Linked DNA regions of Homo sapiens: regions 1, 3 and 4 are each linked to region 2. The links come from fine-mapping of genetic effects on gene expression. A gene starts in region 2. Each other region holds a variant in brackets. All regions are shown on one strand. Distances are from middle to middle.

The links. PIP is the estimated chance that this variant, and not a neighbour inherited with it, causes the effect.
Region 1: its variant is the best candidate, but not a certain one, in a credible set for the expression of CPED1 in macrophages (Alasoo 2018, PIP 0.59).
Region 3: its variant is the best candidate, but not a certain one, in a credible set for the expression of CPED1 in whole blood (TOPMed, PIP 0.54).
Region 4: its variant is the best candidate, but not a certain one, in a credible set for the expression of CPED1 in uterus (GTEx, PIP 0.72).

What each region holds. Positions count from the first base shown.
Region 1 is chr7:121,279,190-121,281,879 of GRCh38, reverse strand. All of the region lies in intron 22 of CPED1 (cadherin like and PC-esterase domain containing 1), which reads right to left. Among named protein-coding and RNA genes, the nearest start is that of WNT16, 48 kb to the left of the region's middle. The variant G/A (reference allele first, on the strand shown) is at 1,528.
Region 2 is chr7:120,987,434-120,990,123 of GRCh38, reverse strand. It overlaps CPED1 (cadherin like and PC-esterase domain containing 1), which reads right to left and starts at 1,413. Exons shown (of 23, transcript NM_024913.5): 1 at 1,212-1,413; 2 at 254-733. The coding sequence starts at 502. RefSeq lists an enhancer at 2,158-2,237.
Region 3 is chr7:121,021,445-121,024,134 of GRCh38, reverse strand. All of the region lies in intron 3 of CPED1 (cadherin like and PC-esterase domain containing 1), which reads right to left. Among named protein-coding and RNA genes, the nearest start is that of CPED1, 34 kb to the right of the region's middle. The variant C/T (reference allele first, on the strand shown) is at 1,145.
Region 4 is chr7:121,061,570-121,064,259 of GRCh38, reverse strand. It overlaps CPED1 (cadherin like and PC-esterase domain containing 1), which reads right to left. Exons shown (of 23, transcript NM_024913.5): 5 at 1-22. Among named protein-coding and RNA genes, the nearest start is that of CPED1, 74 kb to the right of the region's middle. The variant T/C (reference allele first, on the strand shown) is at 1,504.

The sequences.
Region 1 (2,690 bases), 290 kb before region 2:
CTGCATGACAATCTGTTTGATCAGCATTGTTCCATAAGTCTTATAAGAAAAATGGTTTTTCTCACAGCAATGTTCACATTTGATTAAGTTACATGTAAGACTTTCAAGACTTTCAAGTAAAAATTACAGTGTTTCAAAGACAAATATTTTAAATATACTGACTATAGAAATTTAGGAAAACAATTTTGGAGCTAAATGGAGTTTTATAAGTATAAGATCTTATAGGCTATTAAATGATCACACTTTTCTGTGACTCAGTGTAGCAAGAATTGAAATTCTGTGCTTTGGGTTGTAGACATAACATTTACTTTTTTATAGTTTCCTTATATGGTAAGGGATCTGCCAGTTTATAATTATAGATCTTTCCACATCTCTACACCATTAAAAACGTGGGTACAGAGACATTTTAGAAGGCATACAAATGGTCACAATTCAACTTGACTGGATTTGGCCTATGGGAATTATAAGACTTCCCAAACGAACAAAAAATTGTTTGAATTATGAAACCAAACTTAACATTGCAACTTTCACTATTAAATGTAGGTAATTTCAACACTCAAAATTGATTTCACATAAACCATCATCAGAACGTGTGTATTGCCATATCAATTAACTGCTGATTCTAAAAATAACTTTGAATTTCCAAAAAGCCAGTACAAAAGGGAAGTCTTGGTGAACTGGAAAGGTGTCAGGCAGATTACAAACAAATACCTTTCTTAAGATTGATCTTGACCTGAATAACCCACAAAGAACTTCTGATGTGGTTCCAGATCCACAGAATAAAATAGAAAACAATTTTTATGGTGCAAGTGTTCCAAAATTGTCCTATACTGGATTAGAGGATGCTCTGATTACAAATATGTTTCATCATGGATGGGGTCTGAAGAGGAGACAGGGTAATGGCTTTCTGAGGCTGGAAAACATGAGATTGGCCAGGCAAATGTGTTAGTCTTAAGACAAATGTATACTGTTGAAGTACTTTTTGTTGGATGTAGTCATTCTGCAGATGGCATTCAATCCAAGATCCAGTCACCAAATTATGACCAGCTGAAAAAGTAGCCTAAGAATTCACAAAAGTGGAATAAAAATAACGTGACAAACAATAGCTAGAAGTTAGTCCTTATAACTCATAATTTCACTTCAGGACATCATGCAATTTTGACAGATAATAGGGAATTCTTTCATTTCATCCCTTTGCCCCCAAATATTTAATTATGGCCACATGAAATAAACTGTGTTTTGATTGAAGGGAATCCAACTTCTGAATCTGTCAAAGATGCTGGGGATTAGGGGGCAAGACTAAAACTTTCTTTAGGAATGAGTTTTGTTTTGTTTTGGTGTTTCCAGATTTGCAGTCAGCATATTGTCTGTCCCCCACCCTTCCTCTAATCCCCAGCCCTTCTTACTCTGACAGCTGAGGCTTTGTAACTCCTGCCCTTGGACAACGCTGAGCGTTGGCTCTGGGAACAAATTCTGCTCTGAGGTGCGGAGACTGATTGTAAGGAGCTCCAGACCAGAAGTTTACCA[G/A]TTTAATATTAAACTGTTGGTTCTATCTTACAGTCTCATGCAGTTCCCCAGACACTAAATTCCCCTGTCTTAAACTCAATTTCCCAAGTGGCTGAATATCTATGTTGCTGAGTTTTTACACTATTGGAATGACCTGTACTAGTCTTAGCATAAGCTAATTCCTCTTTTGCTCTATTTAGATGTGCATCTTGGGTCTTGGAATCTATTGGACGTTAACACACAGGTATTTGTTTCTATCTAACGCTCTTGAACTTAAATATTTTATTTAAGATTAAGGCACTAAATGTTACACAATTTGTGTGGGGACTAACATTTCCAACTGATGACTTCACTGTATTAATTTGCTCAGCACCACTCTGGCCTTTTCAAAGAAGATCTTCCGGTGGGTCATTCAGTTTCATGTCAGAAGAGCTCTCCAGCCTCCTGTCTGAGGGACCCTCTGCCTGACTGTGGAATGCTAGGAGGTCTAGGGAAAAGTTCAGGGCTCCTCCCTTCACACGCCAACTTTACCTTCATCTTTCTGTTTTCAGCCTCTAGATTAATTTATTCTTTACTATACTTGTGTTTCTGAGTCCAGACTTTCTGCAGTTCCATTTTAAAAGATATTGTATGTGATGATATAGATTCCCAACTGTATGGGCTGGGGTAAGGAACTCAGGGGTCTACCAATTTTGCACATAGACTTCTAGCCAATTGTTTTCTGACCTGTGTCTCAGCCTTATCTTTTTCAGCATAGGATCTGAACAGCAAGTATGCCTCACTCACAGCTAGTATTTCTCTTCTCTCGGCACTTTCAGTTGTACCTTATTTTGCCTGCTAAGTCAAACTTCATAGAATGAATTCAAATGAATTCAGATTTCTTGTCTGTTATGAGTTATTCTGTTTTTTCTTTGTGGCGGGGGGTGGGGAGTGAGTGAGTAGCTTTATGTCTTTAAAGTATTTTTCTTGGGGTTTCAAGTGGAAGGGAAGATAAATGCTTGTGGTCAATCTGCCTCATTTAGTCTGTACTTCATGCATGATTTTTTAGACCTTATCCTTATGCCAATTTTCTCAAAGTGTGTTTAGTGGGGTGTTAATAGTTGTGATAAAAAAAATAAGGAAAAGTCATTCTGTGGTCAAAAATGCTGGGGAAAAACTGGGTCACACTAAGCTAACCAGCTTCT
Region 2 (2,690 bases):
ACTGTCTACTTCATTCCACTGAAATGAAGTGAAATCCTAAGAGATAAAGTAATGCCAGAACTTTCTGGAAGTAACTATAAGAAGTTGAAGCTTATGTAACGTGTTTCCCAGTCATCAGGTCACTCTCTAGGCTGTTTACACTCTGGATCCCTTTCAGACCTCATGGAAGTTAATTTTAGTTTTATAGAAAGGACAGAGAAGCAGATTGCTGTCTTTGCAGAAACTGTCTCCGTTAAGCTTATGAGAGTCTTACCTTTCTGGTTTCCTGGGCATTACCAGAGAGAAGGAAGCACTGTTTGTCCTGAGAGAATCCTTTCTTGCATCTGCTTGCCTGGGTTTCAGTGGATGTGTGTGGGACAGCCCCAGGGGCAGCGGCTGTGAGCTTCCTCGACCCTCGGAGGGTCAGAGTCTGGTAGAAGAGACAGATTGCCACCACTAAGCCCACCAAGAAGGGTCGGGGGCAAAATCGCCGACGACAAGGGAACACTGGGCGACAGACCATGACCAGTTCAGCTTCACTTGGCCCCTGTCCACGTTGCGGGAAAAGTCATAGCAGCTATTTTTTGTCAGCATGAAAAATACTAATCTGTCTTCTTTTTCCCCAACTCCAATCAAGTTTGCTTCATCCCTGCTTAAGAATTTTCCAAAAGGTTGTGCCAAAGAATCATAGGTCCCGAAAGTCTGAGGCTTTTAATAAGAGCTCTTCCATGGATGACAGTCAAAAGTGGATGACCTGAGTTTAAAAAAAGACATCAAATAATAATAGTTGTAACGAATAACCTGAGTGTACCCCAGGCTGCCAAACTGTTGCTTCCAGCAATGCCTTATTCTCACATCTTTCAACTCACAGTAAAGGAGTCCGACTCTGCCTCAGCTTTGCAGGAAGAGAGAAAACAATACCAAAGTATATCTGGAGTCTGAAAACAGCATTGAAGAACGCAAAAGATTAAAACCCAAAGTGCCTGTTGCACAGCTGAACTCAGGCCAGGTTGCCTTAGCAGTTCCTCAATTTTCCTCCGGTTTTAAAGCAGTCTTGCTTTCAGCCTTTTGTATGCTTCCCTTCATTTAGTTTTAAATTCCCACTGTCCTGTAAGTATTCACGGCTTTTAACATAAAAAGGGCATACGCAATTTGAATGGACATGGTTACTGTCAGGGTTTTTGCTTGAATTTGTTTCATTCCGTCTCAAGTTCAAAGTTCTATGTACTTACTCAGTTTTCATCCTTTTAGCCAGGAAAAAAAAAGTTTCCATGATTTCCTAATGGATTGCTGATGAAAACCACTCGGAAGGAAACACCCAGTCGTATGACTCCAATTCATCTCACACACACACAGAGAGAGACACACACACACACGCACACAGACACATAAACACACGCGCGCGCGCCCGCTGCACGCCCGGCGGGAGCAGAGGACCTCGGCATCGCAGCCACCCGGGGCCGGGCAGAGCGGGGCGGAGCTAAGGCCGGGTTCCTCTGGCCCTGGGGGCTGCTGGAGCAGCGCTGTCAGCCCTGTGTCCGAAACCGTGGGCTTCCCCACTTTGGAAACAGCAGCTAGCATTTCCCCAAATGAGGCTGCCCACCCAGAGCTGCAGAATTTAGAAACGTATCTGATGTCTGATCCTCTGTGCAACTTCTTTTTCCTAATACAGAATTGGAAAAACAAATAGCCTTAGCCAATTGGTGACAAAGGTCGAGAATGAGACTAAAGTGAACTCCATGAGTGAATTGGGATATTCTTCACTCCAGGGAATTGTGGTTACTCTTCTGAGGATAAGAGGGTCACAAGTACTGTCTGGACCTCAGACAGCAAGCACCAGAATAACTCAGTCGTCTCTCTGTGTCTTAGTATGGAACTCAGATCACAGATGTTCTTATTACTCCTTTCCTGGACTAATTAATTGGGTCTTTCAATGATCTGATGCTTCATGGCCTGACATTTTGCTCCTAAAATGAGTCGATTATAGCAGGTGTTGGGGGTAACTTTTGCCCAGTAGATAAAGGTACACAGTGGGCTTTGTCCAGAATCAGCTCAGTCTAATTCTGTGCAGACCTTCGGGTGGACGCTGCTAATAGTGCAATTCTGCAAACCCCCTTCCACTTTTGCTGAGGCTGTCAAGGCGAAAGGAAATCAGTCCTTGCTTTGTGAACTCTGGATACCCAGGGCTGTCTTAGCGCATAGCAGGCATTATTTAAAGGCTCTGGACCTGAAGAGGTTTTCAAACTTGTTTCTAAGCCAAACTCTTGTGGGTTGAGGTTCTCCGTGAGGCCACACCCCTAGAGTGAGCCTCACCCAGAGGCACGCTGCTGTCAGCCCCTTGTATTTTGAGAGACGGAGCGCCCCCTAGGGGTGCCCAGCTAGCACAGATTCAGAGAAATGGGCATCTAGAGTTCCTTGCTTGTGAGAAAGAAACCCTTTTAACATCCTATAGAACAAATTAATTAACACATTACAGAAGAAATATTCACACGGAAGCTGGATTTATCCCAAGCCCTTGCATGTATCGCCTCCAGTGGCTTTAATATTATTTTATGTATAGGTTCAGAGTCCTTAATCTTATGACAAATGGGATAGAGAAAAATAAAGTGATGCTTCACTTTTAGAAGCCAAAAGAGTTTTAAGAGAAAATGGCTGAACAGTGGTGTTGTAGGACATATCGTTTTGGTGGATGCAATGTGATTTGAGAGATA
Region 3 (2,690 bases), 34 kb before region 2:
TAAATCTATAAGCACTGAGGAAAATAACAATAAACCTGAGCATACAATTACTGTGTGTCATAACCCAGTAAAATAGAATAGTGCAGTCTTACATGTTTCTTTGATTCAATTCCTTTTTTCCCCCCAGTTTGATTAACTAAATAAAGTACAGAAGCACTTCTGATACCGTCCAAAGCCTATTACTTGCATAATGAAAAACGTATGTCAAACGTGTTCTAGGCAAAACACCGGCAAGGCAAAACACACAGTGCCTTTTAAATGTGACCTTTACTCTTTTGTCTTCCTGCTAAATAGTCATAGAGCATATTAAACTCAGGAAAGCAGTAGGGTGCTGGTGTGGGGCTAGAGGGGGGAAAGAAATGAGAAGAGAAGTTCATTAGGCTCTCAAGTCTTAAATTACCAGCAGAAGCATCTGCTATAAATGTGCACTATTAGTCCAAGAGGGCCACCTCCAGATTTGCTCCACACTGGTGTTTCTCACCTCTTCCTTGACTGCTATTTCTCTCTTCTGCCCGTGCAACACCAGACAAAGCAAAGACTAAAGAAAATGAATCCCTGCAATGATAGAGATTCACATTTTTGTCTTGTTTTCTCTCATTCTGTGTGTTTGAGTCTTATATTGTACCACAGAACTGTAGAGTTGTAAAAAAGCTTTGGTGGTTATTTCACTCATTCTGCTACATAATACAGCAACCCAGAGTTGCTTCTGTTGCAACCAAACTTCCTACTTTTTGTTCTGGGCTGTTCTATTGCTGGACAACTCTGATAGATAAAATGTCCTTCCATAAACTGGTCCTAGTGATGCCCTCTTGAGTTACTAAAAATAAATCTTGCATTCAAGCACCTTGTTAAACAATGGGAATACAAAAATATTGGTTCAACTACTACAGGGCCTCCCAGAAATATTCTCTTCAGTTGAACAATCTGTTTTCTCATTCCTGCTACAGTTCTGGCTTCTGCTGCAACTGTAGAAATAAACCCTCTTGAAGTATACGTAAATAATTCTGACAAAATGATAAAATATACTCTGTGTCAGAGTCTTTTGAACTACATATTACTGAGACTTGACCCCAGGAGCAGGTTAAAAACTTTGAAAAATATGTATCTTTTTTTTTTTGGCCACTTACTATCCTATGAAGTAAAA[C/T]AATGATTTACTGAATAGCATCTGGATGATAGGAAAGATAATAATTTGATGGTGTCTTTTTTTTCTAGAGAAGTACGTTATTAAAATTCTGGATCATAATATATGTTTTTTCAAAGCAAAGAACTGGAAGACCAATAAAACTTACATTACACTAAGAAATAAACTACAGAGCATAATATAGAGGATGCAGATAGGACCTAAGTGATATGACGCGGTTTTTGACTGTCCTCCTTCTTGCTTTGTATGTTTGCGAGTAGCAAAAGCTGTATACTTACTTTTACCAGAGAGCATCCTTAGGCAACACTGTGTCACACTGCTTTATAGGCTATTGAACCTTCAGTAAATCAATTATCACCTCTCAGCAGATGACCCACAAACCTACATCTCCTGACCTGGCATTTCTGCTTGCTTGAGTTTCTGCTGAATACATCCCTATGAAAATTCACAGCACCTATAACTGAATATGTATAGAAAGAAACTCATCCAACCTGTCCCAAAATCAATAGGTCAAGTAACCTGGCAAATGTAACAGGAGAGCCTTGAAAGCAAGGCAAGAGTAAAATTCTTAAAAATGGACACAAGTACTCAAAAGCCCCAGCAGTATAGAATCATTTGATGTATAAACTATCAGCCCTATGTAATACTATATTTATGGTTTCATTATCTTTGGTGTAAGAGTGGACTTAAGTCTAAATAGAATATCAGTGTTCCTCTAAAGTCAAATAAAATAAAAGTTTTATGAACTAAGTTTAATATGAGTTTCCTGAGTGAATTTGCTGTTTAAGGAGCCCAAATATTGATGTACTATTTTATCTTCCTTTGTTCATGTATTTAATAAATATTTATCATATGCCCCTATGTGGAAGGTGTGGTTATAAATGATAAGCATAAAAGACATGGTCCCTGACCTTAGGAAGCTTACAGATTTTTTTTTTAATGTGAGATTTTTCCAAGGGAATAATCCAGGAGAGTATGTCAGAATTTCAGGAGGATTTACAACCCAGACCTTCTAATGAGAACATATAAGTCGAGAAGGCTAAATTGAAAAACACCTATCAAGTTCATTTTACCCATAATAACATCCAACAGCAGCACTCTTACACTACTGCATATTTTAAATACACCTCCCTACAGGGGAAATGTCATATTCTCCTTTCTGTAACTACTTCTTGACAGCAGTAACAATATTATCTCCCGTTTATGGGGTGATTACTATGTACCATTCTTAAAACAACCTCAAAAGGATCAACTTGTAGATGAGAATACCAAGACTTTCAGAGGATAAGTTACTTGCCCAGGGTTATGTAACCATTAAAAGGTAACACTAAGGACTCCAACCTAGGTTCTGTCTTACTTCAATGCTTATACTTTTTAATTTCCAAAGCCTACTACCTCCCCAAGAAAGTTATTATTGTGGTTAAGCTCGTCTTACTTATGGGCAATTTAAAGCTCGACTTCCTTATAGCTTCTTTTTTATTACAAATAAAAAGAAAAATGTGAAATATGTTTTCCATTACAAAGGTTAAGATTGATCTGTCGTGGATGT
Region 4 (2,690 bases), 74 kb before region 2:
GTATTTCTGGTAATCTGTTTGCCTGAAAGGAATGAAAAAGATTCTAGTGAGTGAGGCATTCATCAACGCTAAAGCAAAACCAAGCAAACACAAAAAACCCAGAGAGTATAGATGGGATGCACTGTCTAAACCACCCACACCCCACCTTCAAATCTCTGCAAGTCAACATGCAAATCCAGAATAATGAAGTAGCTTATTTGATAACATAAAACTAAAACTTGCCCCTGGGAAGCTTTAAAAGTGGTCCTTGGGATCACTTTTTGAAAACCCTTTCATATTTTGAAGCCATGATATTTGCTAAATATAAAAGAAAATACTTGAGACAAATATAGTAACATAAATAACTTGATATTTAGTGGCAATTCAGTGTTAAACCCGTTCCAAAATTTCATAAACATTCTTCACTTCATACTGAAGGGATTATTTCTAAATATAAAACCCAGTCACCCACAAAACTTCACTTCAACCAAAACTTGTTTTTAGACAGCTTTGTAAATATTATCATAAATTCAAATATATGGAGTTTGAAAAGATTATAAAAGATACAACTTTAATTCTTCCCTTCTCCTGTGAATCTACAAATTGATTAACATCATCCACTTAATCCCCAAACTAATACCCAATATGAGAAAACCTTGTTAAAACCAACAGATCAGTATAAATTAGCTTGAAAATCAGATTCATTTTTGAGATATTGATTACTTTCAAATTAACACACTCTAACCTAATAAAGTATTGCAGCACTATGTCCTGCTGGCATGACTTGATAGAAATAACCCAGCTGCAGTTGGAGAAGAGAGGCAACTGGAAACAGGGGTGGTAGCTCGCTTCGGGCACTTAAGAGAATCATCATTTGCTTTTTTTTTTTTTTTTTTTTTCAGTTTCTTCATTTGCAAAATAAAGCATTTAGAGCTTTTAGTCTCTAGGTTCCACTTCTGCTCTAAGATTTTTACCAAATCAATAAGATACAGTTCTAAAAACTGATTCATTTAAAGTGCTTGGCAACTGTGCATTGATGAAATCTTCCCCAATCCTTGCTACTTTATTAACCCTGTTCATGTGTTCAGCAAACTCTCTTTTCCCCGATAATAGCTGTAAGAAGGAAAAACTTCAGCCCAGATCCTGTATGAATGAAGCCTAGCTTCAGCAGAACCTATTATTGTGATTCTGCACCAGTGGCATTCCTAAACACTACATTGTAAAAGTCCACAAGGACACCAAAGTGTTTATTAGTCCTTTTTCATGCTGCTGCTGAAGACATACGCGAGACTGGGTAATTCATAAAGAATAAGAGCTTTAACGGACTCACAGTTCCACGTGGCTGGGGAGGCCTCATAATTATGGCAGAAAGTGAAAAGCATACCTTACATGGTGGCAGGCAGGAGCGAATGAGGGCCAAGTGAAAGGGAAAATCCCTTATAAAACCATCAGATCTCGTGAGACTTACTCACTACCACGAGAATAGGATGGGGGAAACCGCACCCATGATTCAATTATCTCCCA[T/C]TGTGTTCCTCCCACAACACGTGGGAATTATGGGAGCTATAATTCCGGATGAGATTTGGGTGGGGACACAGCCAGAACATATCAAAGTGGACGTCACTGACATTCATTTGCACTAAGAATTGAGAAAAGGCTGTAAGTGCAGTACACTTTCAATCTTAAGGCTGTCTCGATTTCTCAAATCCAAAAGTGAGAAATCTCAGAAACTAAATGTAGAAAAAGAAGGGCTTTCATAAACCCTGAATTCTTCAATCCAGAATTTAAAAAGGGCTGGAGGGAACAAACAGCATTGCAAAAGTATAGATAACCCATAATAGACTAATAAAAAGGACTAATACACACTTTGGTGTCCGTATGGACTTTTACAATGTAGTGTTGTAATAGAGATTTTTTGTTTGTTTGTTTTTTAAGTTCACAAAGTATCTTTCTAAATTAGTCTGTGAAAAGCTTCAAAAATCAATGAAATTGAGCCATTTTCCCTAAATAGGGCAAAATCATTCCGTTGCTGGTGAATTAATAGAATCCTTAACAATATGATTCAGAAAGAGAATCAGCACTGGGTAAGTAGCATTAAAGGTTATGGACTGACTCTGATCCATTGCTAACCTTCTCTTAACCAACAAAGCACTTGAAAATAATAGAGCCAAGCCAAGGGAAACAATTGTTCTATCCTTCTGCCTTCTATTTTCCTGTCCCCCAAACAATGACTTCTCCCTGTGTTCCTTCCTCCAAAGTTCATCTTTAGAATTAATAGTGTGGCTGACGACATGACTGTAGCAACATGTGACACCAGAAACATCACCTCTATTCTACTCTGGAACTGAACACCAAACTAAGCAGTTAAACTGAGTAAAATAACAGCACAAAGAAGTAAAAACATTCAAGGGTCATGTGTCATACAGCTGTAGTAACTCAACTATATTACACAGATTATAACTTTTTAATTGTTAAACCTAGTAATACTCTTCTATATCCTACTGCTTCGTATTTTTACTTTTACACGTATCATAAAATGTATAAGATTTGCATCATTAAGTGGAACATCATCAAAGGAGTTTTAATTTGGATTCACTGACTTTTATATGATGAGCTTCTCCAGCTTAACATTGCAATTATTTTTTAATGGACTTTATTTCTTATAGCTGTTTTGGGTTCACAGCAAAATTAAGCAGAAGACACAGAGATTTCCC